Regions from separate parts of the Homo sapiens genome. Here region 2 is linked to region 1. The links come from fine-mapping of genetic effects on gene expression. A gene starts in region 1. The other region holds a variant in brackets. All regions are shown on one strand. Distances are between the middles of the regions. Region 1 holds the start of CPM (carboxypeptidase M). Region 2 has its middle 28 kb from the start of CPM.

What was found. PIP is the estimated chance that this variant, and not a neighbour inherited with it, causes the effect.
Region 2: its variant is fine-mapped to the expression of CPM in whole blood (INTERVAL, PIP 0.93).

What each region holds. Positions count from the first base shown.
Region 1 is chr12:68,930,136-68,935,514 of GRCh38, reverse strand. It overlaps CPM (carboxypeptidase M), which reads left to right and starts at 2,344. Exons shown (of 9, transcript NM_198320.5): 1 at 2,344-2,373; 2 at 2,675-2,837. The coding sequence starts at 2,678. RefSeq lists silencers at 1,965-2,074, 2,105-2,464.
Region 2 is chr12:68,958,251-68,963,629 of GRCh38, reverse strand. It overlaps a transcript of CPM not described here. Among named protein-coding and RNA genes, the nearest start is that of CPM, 28 kb to the right of the region's middle. The variant G/A (reference allele first, on the strand shown) is at 3,052.

The DNA of each region.
Region 1 (5,379 bases):
GTTCAAGACTAGCCTGGCCAACATGGTGAAACCTGGTCTCTATTAAAAATGCAGAAGTTAGGCATGTGTGGTGTAAAAATACAAAAGTTACGTAGGTGTGGCGATGCGTGCCTGTAATCCCAGGTACGTTAGAGGCTGAAACACAAGAATCGCTTGAACCTGGAAGGCAGAGGCTGCAGTGAGCTGAGATTGCACCACTGCACTCAAGCCTGGGCAACAGAGTGAGACTGTATCTCAAAACAAACAAACAAACAAACAAACAAACAAACAATAAAACAACTTCTCTTTAAGAAAAAAAAAAAGATGGCCAGGCACGGTGGCTCACGCCTGTAATCCCAGCGATCTGGGAGGCCGAGGCAGGCAGATCGCCCGAGGTCGGGAGTTCCAGACCAGCCTGGCCAACATGGTGAAACCCCGTCTCTACTAAAAATACAAAAATTAGCCGGGCCTGGTGGCAGGTGCCTGTAATCCGAGCTACTCGGTAGGCTGAGGCAGGAGAATTGCTTGAACCTGAGAGGAGGTTGCAGTGAGCCGAGATCATGCCATTGCACTCCAGACTGGGCAACAGAATTGAGACTCCATCTCAAAAAATAAAGAAAGAAATAAAAAATTAAAAAAAAAATTCCAACTCTTGGAAAATTCCCTTTAAAGAGTTACGAATTAAGCTGGTTTATTTATGTAATAAACGCTTCGCACAGTTCTTACAATGTGCCTGCCAACCTTATTTAGGTAGGTACAATTAAGACTTCCACTTTACACACCAGAAAATAAGGCACAGAGTCGACACAGCCACTGAGTGTCAGAGCAAGAATTGGCACTCATCCCGTGAGCGCCTCAGTTCTTTTTTTTTCTTTATATATACTTTAAGTTCTAGGGCACATGTGCACAACTGTGGCACATATACACCACGGAATACTATGCAGCCATAAAAAAGGATGAGTTCATGTCCTTTGTACGGACATGGATGAAGCTGGAAACCATCATTCTCAGCAAACTATCGCAAGGGCAGAGCGCCTCAGTTCTTAAACCACTCTTCTATGCTGCGGCAGAATCACTGGAAGTCTCAGGGAGTCCTGAGTGCGCAATTCTAGGAAAAGTATCTATATCTGTAAGAAAGAAGGGGCAGGGAATCTAACGGTTCTCAGCTCTTGAAGGCACATTAGATTCATTCAAGGTCCTCTCTAAAAATACACTTTCTTGGGCCTCCACGAGAAAAATTCTATTCAATTAGTCGTGGGCTTGCATCCGTATTTTTAGTCTGTAAAAGTGGAATGTTATCTCAAATCAGTGGTTTTCAAACTTTTTATATTCTGCGGACCTTGACACGGGCCCCCAATACCCTGACACGGTTACTTACAATCCGGGAGAGAGTGGGAGAAAGGGGGAGAGAGGGAAGGGGAGAGGGGGAGGGGAGAGAGAGAGAATGAATGAGAATGAATCTTTTAGAGAGGTAGAGGGGGTTGGCCCGTGCCACAAACCACCTCTCAGGTTTGAGTGAAGCCTTCGTTCTCTCTCGTGCAGAGACCATGCCATCCTTCCAGAAAGGAGCATTTTAGGACGTTTTAGGACGAGAGACCTGTAATTGGCCTAAGACTCAGGTGCAGGTGGAGGAAGCATCGGATTTACAACAGTGGTCCTGCCTTCTTCGATGTGACTTCCAGTTTTAAATTCAATTCTAATTTACACAAATCCCACCCACTATGTAAACTTGTTGGAAAATGTCCTGCACTCTGCACTTCGTGGCATTTAAAACTTCCACACACGCGCGCGTTCTTTCTCGAAGCCCCGTGATTGCTTAGCCTCGCTGGGCAGCTTGGCACTGCTGGGAGCTTGGCTCGCCCTGCCGGGGCCGACGCCGCCCGTCCCGCAGGAGCCCGCGCGGGGCTCAGGGCACTCAGGACTCCGCATGCGTCCCGGCTCCAGGTGGGCCCCGGCACCGCCAACCGCAGGAAACCCGCCGAGCCCTAAACGTCTCCCAAGCGGCTGCAGTCTGCGACAGAGAGTGTCCCTCGGTGGAGCGCCCTGTGGCTGCCCAGGCTACAGCCGTGGCCGAGGCGAGGACACACTTCTGACCTGGGGCTCCAGCAAAGACTGTCCGCGAGCGGCGACTCCATGCCCGCAGCCCTCCGCCCAGCTCAGCCGCCCGGCCGCGGGCACCAGCAGCCGCGCCACGAAAGGGCGCACCGCGCGGGCGCCGTCTCTCCTAGGTGCGAAGGCGGCTGAGGCCCCGCCCGGGAGGCACCCGCGCGGCTCCGGAGTGGGCCGGAGGGACGTCCGGGGGCGGGGCCCGGGCGCGCCCGCCCTCTGACCGGGCTATAACACCCGGCCCCGCCGGGCGGCCGCGGGTGGGTAGAGGTGCGCGCCTGGGACCTGGTGAGGCTGGGGGTGCGCGGGGCCGGGCGCAGCTGTGGCAGCTGCCGGACGGCGGAGGCGCCAGGAGGAGGAGGAGAGGGAGGCGCGGGCGGCTGGGTCGAGGGCACCGAGGCTGCCCGTGCTCCCGGTCTCTGGTTGCACGGCTCACTCCCGAAGGTGTTGCTTCCAGCTTTTGCCTCCTTAGGAGGCAGGGAGCGTCAGTGTCGGGAGACCCTGAGACCGGAGTACCGAGACGTAGCTGGTGATGCCCCCGCCTGCCCTCATGTGTTCTCAGGTTCTTCTTATTTTTATTCATCTCTAGAACATGGACTTCCCGTGCCTCTGGCTAGGGCTGTTGCTGCCTTTGGTAGCTGCGCTGGATTTCAACTACCACCGCCAGGAAGGGATGGAAGCGTTTTTGAAGACTGTTGCCCAAAACTACAGTTCTGTCACTCACTTACACAGTATTGGGAAATCTGTGAAAGGTAGGGTCCGTCTCGTGAACACTTTGCCAAACCCTCAGTCCTCCCTTTCAGTATTCATTAAATATGCCCCAGCTTCCTGTCTGCTCTTCCACGCACCTACTCTGAGTGGCACAGAACAAGTCAACCGGTACCGTGCGTGTTGGTTGTTTTCTGCTTTTGTTGGGAGGAATAGTAGGAAGAACTGAATTTTACTGGACTTGTCCATTGTAATTCAGTGTCACTGAGTCCTTTCCATTATTGGAGTTCTTCTGTCTTTTTGGATCTTGCAGACATTGGTTATTTGGGATGTATGTTTTAGTTCCTTTTCAAGATAAACTCCCAAGTAAGTCCGTTTATCCGTTTCAGTTCCCCTTTGTGTGGGCTTCTTTATATATGACTTGGACTGTTAATGTCATTTCTTCATGTCTCTTTTAAACTGAAATAATGCAGTTTTGTTGGTAAGATTTCTGTGTCATCTGTAGTTAGCCTTTTATTTAAAGTTATGCAAAACTATCATTTCTGCAAGTTTCTTTTAATCTAAGTAGTACAGTTCTGTTGGTTAGATTTGTGTCGTGTATAATTAGCCCTATGGCTTAAAGTTATGCAAAAAAGTGGTTCTATGATTAAAGGCTGTTTTTAAAATGTATCCATTTGAAGAAGACAATGCTAGATAATGAATATATATTAGTAGTGATTGAAACTCTTCCCAGCATTTTCATATTTATCATTAATAATTTATTGTTCTAAGTTAGAAACTACATAAAGTTATTTTCATTTTTATAGACAGCAAGTTTGAATCAGATAAATTAAATAATTTGTTCAAGGTCTCCCAGATGGTGAATTTTATAGCCAGGACTGGCACCCATCCGGCCAAGGCAAATAATTTGATCAGATATCGTTATTTCATCTTTCTTTCTTTCTTTCTTTCTTTCTTTTTTTTTTTTTTTTTTTTTTGGTCAGAGTCTCGCTCTGTTGCCCAGGCTGGAGTGCAGTGGCGTGATCTCGGCTCACTGCAACCTCCGGCTTCCTGAGTTCAAGCAATTCTCCTGCCTCAGTCTCCCGAGTAGCTGGGATTACAGGAATGCGCCACCACAGCTGGCTAATTTTTTTGTATTTTTAGTAGAGATGGGGTTTCACCATATTGGCCAGGCTGGTCTCAAACTCCTGACCTTGTGATCCTCCTGCTTCGGCCTCCCAAAGTGCTAGGATTACAGGTATGAGCCACCGTGCCCGGCCGAGATACCATTATTACTTAATCATCTTTTATTATCCTGATGTTCCCAAAGAGGTTACCAGAAAACTTAGTCCTTAAATCAAAAGTTTCATAAATTTTATGCAATTTGGATCTCAACTTTTTGTAAGGTGTGTTCAAACTCTACCTTGATTTTAGCTCTGAACTTTTGAGTCAATTGAGAGTCTCATAATTACCATATTCTTCATCATTTTTCAAAAAAATCAAGGCTATGGCTTCTATATTAAAGAAAAAGTATTATATAAATGTATTTATGTGCAATGCGAAGTCAATATCCTGGGCTGTGTGTAATAGTAACTTTGTTTTTAAACAGCATTGCCAAAGAGATGGTGCCAGAATTACTCTATATTGCTCTATAATCCAAAATTATAGAGGTTGGGTGTGTGAGAAATCATATCTTGAATCAGCATACGTATTCAGCCTTCTGAAATCATTTTTCCCTAGGGCTAGAGTAGAGCAATTTAAAAAGATCTAGGAATACTAATTATATTAATTAAAAATATATAGAACACAACTAGCTTGAGTTATTGTTCAGTCATCATTTCAACCACAAGATGATGAGGATGTTGTTAATTTTAAGTACTAAGTGATTTGGTAAGGTTTTGTATTTTCAAACACAATGTGCTTGTGACAGTTGGGGGCTCTCTTTCCTAATATGAATCAGCAGTTGTGATCTATCCTGCATGATATCAAACCACAATCACAGTGAAAGTCAGCAGGCTTAATTTTGTTTTTAATTTTACCTTGTATGCACTCTTGCGGTTAAAGGCTTGAGGAGTTATCATGTAAAAATAAAATCTGACACTAGTGGTTAAATATTTGTGTTGAATATGTTGTTCTGAATAATAACTCGGATTAAGAAAAATCCCAAATCTGCCATTTGGCTCCAACTGGTAGATGAAACTGTATGCCAGTAACTGGGAGTCAGTTGCCAAAGTGTCACTGCACATTAGTGTGACAATTGAGAGATGGTGCTCCTTTGTTGGTGGTCTTTTTCACTAGATATTTTCCCTAACCATTCTGCCCTCTGATGTAAGATAAGTTTGCTTAGAAAACAGAATTTATGACCAGGCCCAGTGACTCATGCCTGTAATCCCAGCACCTTGGGAGGCCGAGGCGGGAGGATCACCTGAGGTCAGGAATTTGAGACCAGCCTGGCCAACATGGTGAAACGTTGTCTCTACTAAAAATACAAAAAATTAACCAGACATGGTGGTGTGCACCTGTGGTTCCCGCTACTAGAGAGGCTGAGACCGGAGAATAGCGTGAACCCAGGAGGCAGAGGTTGCAGTGGGCCAAGATCATGCCACT
Region 2 (5,379 bases), 28 kb before region 1:
TGGTGGTTGTCAGGCACTAGGGGGATGGGGAAATGAGAAGTTGTGTAATAGCCATAGAAGTTCAGTTTTGCAAGGCGAGAATGTTCTGGAGATTAGTTATCTAGGGGCCAAGGGAAAAGTTCCCCTTCTCCCTATGAAGTTTCACTGAAAAATCAACTCACAAAAGGCAGACTAGTAGGAGAAATAACATACAAATGCATTTAATGTGTACATGGGAACCTTCAGAATGAAGACAGAGGAAAGTGCACATTTTTATGCTTAGGTTCAAAAAGTATGTAGAGCTGTTTAGAAATATGACTGGACAAAAGGGTATGATGTAACTTTAACAGATGGAGTGAGGAAACCCAGCAAGGCCTGTCTGTCTAGATTCTTCTTGGCCTCTCTGAGCAGCATTTCTTCCTTCTGCGTATGGGACAGGACCCTTTCTGGAATGGGGGTCTTATGACCTACAATCAAACAAGGTAGGTCCGATCATTTCCTTATGACCAGTTTTTATACAGAATGTAAACCAAAAGTATATGAGACAGGTCCCGATCAATGTAGAAAGTTTACTTTGCCAAGGTTAAGGACACACCCATGACACAGCCTCAAGAGGCCCTGCCTATGTGCCTAAGGTGGTCAGGCCACGACTTTGTTTTATACATTTTAGGGAAACATGAGACATCAATCAATACATGTAAGATGTACATTGGTTTGGTCCAGAAAGGTGGGACCACTCAAAGTGGGGACTTCCAGGTCACAGGGAGATTTAAAGATTTTCTGATTTGCAATTGGTTGAAAGAGTTATTATCAATAGAAAGGAATGTCTGGGTTATGATAAAGGATTGTGGAGACGAAGGTTTTATCGTGCAGGTTAAGCCTTCAGAGAGAACAGATTGTAAATGTTTCTTATCAGACTTAAGGAGTCTGTTCTATCAACAATTCTAAAAGGAAGAGGGTACAATGAGGCATGTCTGGCTCCCCCTTCCCATCATGGCCTGAGCTTGTTTTTCAGGTTAACTTTGGGATGCCCTTGCCAAGAGGAGGAGTCTGTTCAGATGGTTGGAGTACTTAGAATTTTATTTTTGGTTTACAAGAAAGGCGGATGAAAAGTTTGATAATATTTTTAGGTTTTATAGCTGGCTTTCGGGAAAAGGGGTTCTGGTTTCTAGGACCCACGTGGGGAAGAGGGATTCTAGTTTCTATGGCTGCCCTCGGGGAAGAGTGGGACTGAGAGACAGGAGGCGAGCAGGAGAAGGTCAGAGAAAACCTTTTGCTTCTCAGGCTGCTTCTGAGGCCTTCATTTTAGGGTGTTGTTTTCCATGTCCCAACAGTGACACAACAGTGTGAATGTACTTAAAACTACTGAACTGTAGGTTTAAAAATGGTTATGATGGTAAATTCTGTGTTATGTGTGTATTATCACACTTGGTTTTTTTTTTTTTTTTTTTGAGATGGAGTCTCGCTCTGTCGCCCAGGCTGGAGTGCAGTGGCGCTATCTTGGCTCACTGCAAGCTCCGCCTCCCAGGTTCACGCCATTCTCCTGCCTCAGCCTCCTGAGTAGCTGAGACTACAGGCGCCCACCACCGTGCCCGGCTAATTTTTTGTATTTTCAGTGGAGACAGGGTTTCACCGCGTTAGCCAGGATGGTCTCGACCTGCTGACCTCGTGATCCGCCCGCCTTGGCCTCCCAAAGTGCTGGGATTACAGACATGAGCCACCACGCCCGGCCATTATTACCACAGTTTTTTAAAACCTATTTTAAAAAGACCACGAAACACTTTAAACATTAAAAATAATCAAATATTTTTTTAATTGCTTATTTAAATAGACTTATGATGGCTTTTCAACCTACACAGTTGTTGAGTTTTTTGTTGTTGTTTGTCTGTTTGTTTATTTAGTAGAGATGGGGGTTCACCCTGTTGGCCAGGCTGGTCTCGAACTCCTGACCTCAAGTGATCCACCTGCCTCTGCCTCCCAAAGTGCTGGGATTACAAGTGCGAGCCACCATGCCTGGCTCATTCAACTTATACAGTTGTTTTTAAAATAAAAAATACATAAGCCAGGCACAGTGTTGCACACCTGTAGTCCTGATTACTCAGAGGTTGAGGTGGGAAGATTGCTTGAGCCCAGGAGTTCAAGGTCAACCTGGGCAACATGGTGAAACCTCTTCTCTAAAATAAAATATATGTAATAAAAAATTTAGGCTGGGCACTGTGTCTTGCATCTGTAATCCCAGCACTCTGGGAGACCCAAGGCAGGTGGACCACTCGAGCCCAGGAGTTCAAGACCAGCCTGGGCAACATGGCAAAACTCCATCTTTACAAAAAACACAAAATTAGCCAGGCATGGGGGCATGTGCCTGCAGTCCCAGCTACTTGGGAGGCTAAGGCAGGAGGATCGCTTGAGCTCACTGGAGGTTGCAGTGAGCTGAGATCACACCACTGCACTCCAGCCTGGGTGACAGAGCAAGACTCTGTCTCAAAAAAAAATTTTTTTAAGACTATAGGTATTTTCATTATTTTTCTCATGACTCTTCTCATCCTTCTGATATTTGTACCTCAATCCTCAGACCACTGTCCCTGTCTATTCTATTTGGGTAACAACCAGTAAGTGGACATTTACAAATTTCCTAGTTTTTACTGGGGATGACAGTCCCCAATGCTAAGTTGCATCGCCTTTTACCTGCCTGACTGGTATACTAAAAAATCAACTCTCAGTTGTTATAGGTAATCATCATGATTAATAGAAAATATGTTACTCTTTTCACCTGTTCTGCAGATAGGACAAAGTAGGTGCAGAATCGTTAATTCACCTGAACAAGTCATAGCAAAGGTCTCAAATGAGGGCTTGTGCAGGGTCAGCTTTCTGGGCTTGAGACCTGTACAGTCACATAGGTTGCCACATTTAGAGGAGCTCCATGCTTGTTTGATGTTCTCTGTTATCATCTTGACATTTTTAATATATATATATTTTAACAAAAGGCCCCATATTTCCTTTTTGCACTGGGCCCTGCGAATTATCTTGCTGGTCCAGGACTTAGGTCACTGATCTCAAAATATGATGTTCTAG[G/A]CTCAGCAGTGGGAAGGGTCGTACAAGTAAAGAAGCATTATCCCTTTTATTCAAGATTCAGCGTAGCTATTTTATACACAATGGTCATACTGATTTTGCTGTAGAGCACTGCAATACTAACACTAGAATCCACCATTTAAAAGGGAAGCTAGAGCCCTCAATAGTTACATCCACGTTTCAGAGAGAAATCCCCACAAAGACGGATATAATTTTCTCATAAATATTTACAAGTTTTAAATAGTTGGATGTTAGTCACCCCATTTATCTTGGTGTTTCCTTGTGAATGAAGCCCATCCAACGTCGACATCGTATTGAGAAAAATCTGTGAAGCTAATGAAGAAAGAAGAATCAAGAGTGCCAAAAATAAATGTTTCCATCCTGAGCCAAAGAATGAATCACTTGTGCATTCATATGTTATAGAAAATGTGATTCCTTTTTTCCAGTTTTACAAGGCCAACACCTATCAGCAACACAAATTCTGACTTTTACTGACTTAGACTAGGTCTCAAAAGCCATAAAAAGGCCGTTCATGGAAATGAACAAAGAATGTATTTGTATCTTTATCTGAGAAGTCATGCCAGAATCCCTTTCAAATCAGCAGGGTAACATTTGGTTTTACATTTGTATGTTTTAGTGAGTTTTATAAACCCTGAAGCTAACCGATTTTTCTTGTAAAGTAGAGAAGTAAACTGATTTTGGGAGAGACGCCTGGGGATATAGCAGAGCTGAAATGTTTGTGCCTTGTTTATTAAACATGATCATCCTCACCAGAAATTACCATAGCATCAGGTTTCCCAGAAGGTTCTGAGGGCCAGAGTTTGTGCTTCACTTCTTCCTTATTCCTAAGGCAACTAACACGATGCTAGCATGTGAGAAGCACCCAGCAAACCCTCTCTTCACCCTCTCTCCAATTTTGGCCTCTCGTGGGAAAACCCCCTCCTTGCCCATGATGTTTCACCCACATCTGTCTTGACTGGGCAATGCCCCCATGCAGCCAACTTTTCATATTCTCTCTTTCACACTTTCATTATAATGTATTTGTCCTTGGTCCAACTGCCTTTGATTTCTAAGATAAAAATGATTTGAAAACTAACTCAGTCTTAAGTTTTGAAGAATTAACAGCGTAGTACAAGACCTCTGTTCTCCTTTAGGTAATTTTTTTTTTTACAATAACAATGATATTTTAAGGCAGTGGCCACTGGAATTAATCTAAAAGTTGAAATGTCTTATTAGGCAATGGGGATTTTGAAACACTTCTGAGTCTCATCATTTAGGTTGCAGTCTATGGAGAGGACTGGCTCTTTCTAAAAGATATTCATTCATTCATTTAATCATCAAACATATCCTGAAGACTTACTCTGTGCCAGGGACTGCTGTGGGTGCTGGGATGCAACACTGAACGGGATGACCAGGACCCTATTCTCATGGCATTCACATTCTGAGGTGGCAGGAATGTATAAATAAGGAGAAAATATGTAATAATAGTAAATGGTATGACGAAGATAAGACAGAGATGTGCAAGGAAATGACAGCTGGGGTGCAGGAACTGGGGGCTACATCTAAGTGGTCAAAGGTCTCTCAAAGAGGATGGCATTGAAGTTGAAACCCGAATAAGAAGGAACCAGACATGGGACGACTTAGGAGAAGAATGTGTCTGGCACAGGGCAGAGCTTGTGCAAAGGCCCTTGGGTGAGAGGCAGATCTGTGTGTTCAGGGCACGTGTGGCTATAACATAGTGTTACCAAGGGATGAGAGGCAGGCGGGGATAGTTCATATAGCGTCTCAGAGGCCAGGAAGGAAGAGGCTTTGGGTTTGATTCTGAGTGTGACTAGAAGCCCCTGGAGTGAAAAGAACATGTTCTGATTATGTTTTAAAACACCCCTCTGGCATTTGAGCTATAACTAGACTACAGGTGCCAGAGAGGAAGCAGGGAGGGGATTAGGAGAGAAACGATGGTATCTCGGACCAAGATGGCAGCAGTGGAGGTGTCACAAACAGCATTAGGAGGTATCTTGGTGATGGAGTTAACAGAACTTCCTGATGTATTGCATTGGTTGGGGTGGGTGGAGAGTCAAAGACTCCTGGGGTTTTGGTTTGAGTAACAGTGTAAGGTGGTTTCATTTCCTGCGACAGAAAAGCTGGGGGTGGAGGGGACTGAGTGGAAGGGGTTTGAGGGGAAAATTAAAAAAGGCATTTAAAAATCCCCTTTTTAAGTCAGGAAACAACAGAAGCTGGAGAGGATGTGAAGAAATAGGAATGCTTTTATACTGTTGGTGGGAGTGTAAATTAGTTCAACCATTGTGAAAGACAGTGTGGCAATTCCTCAAG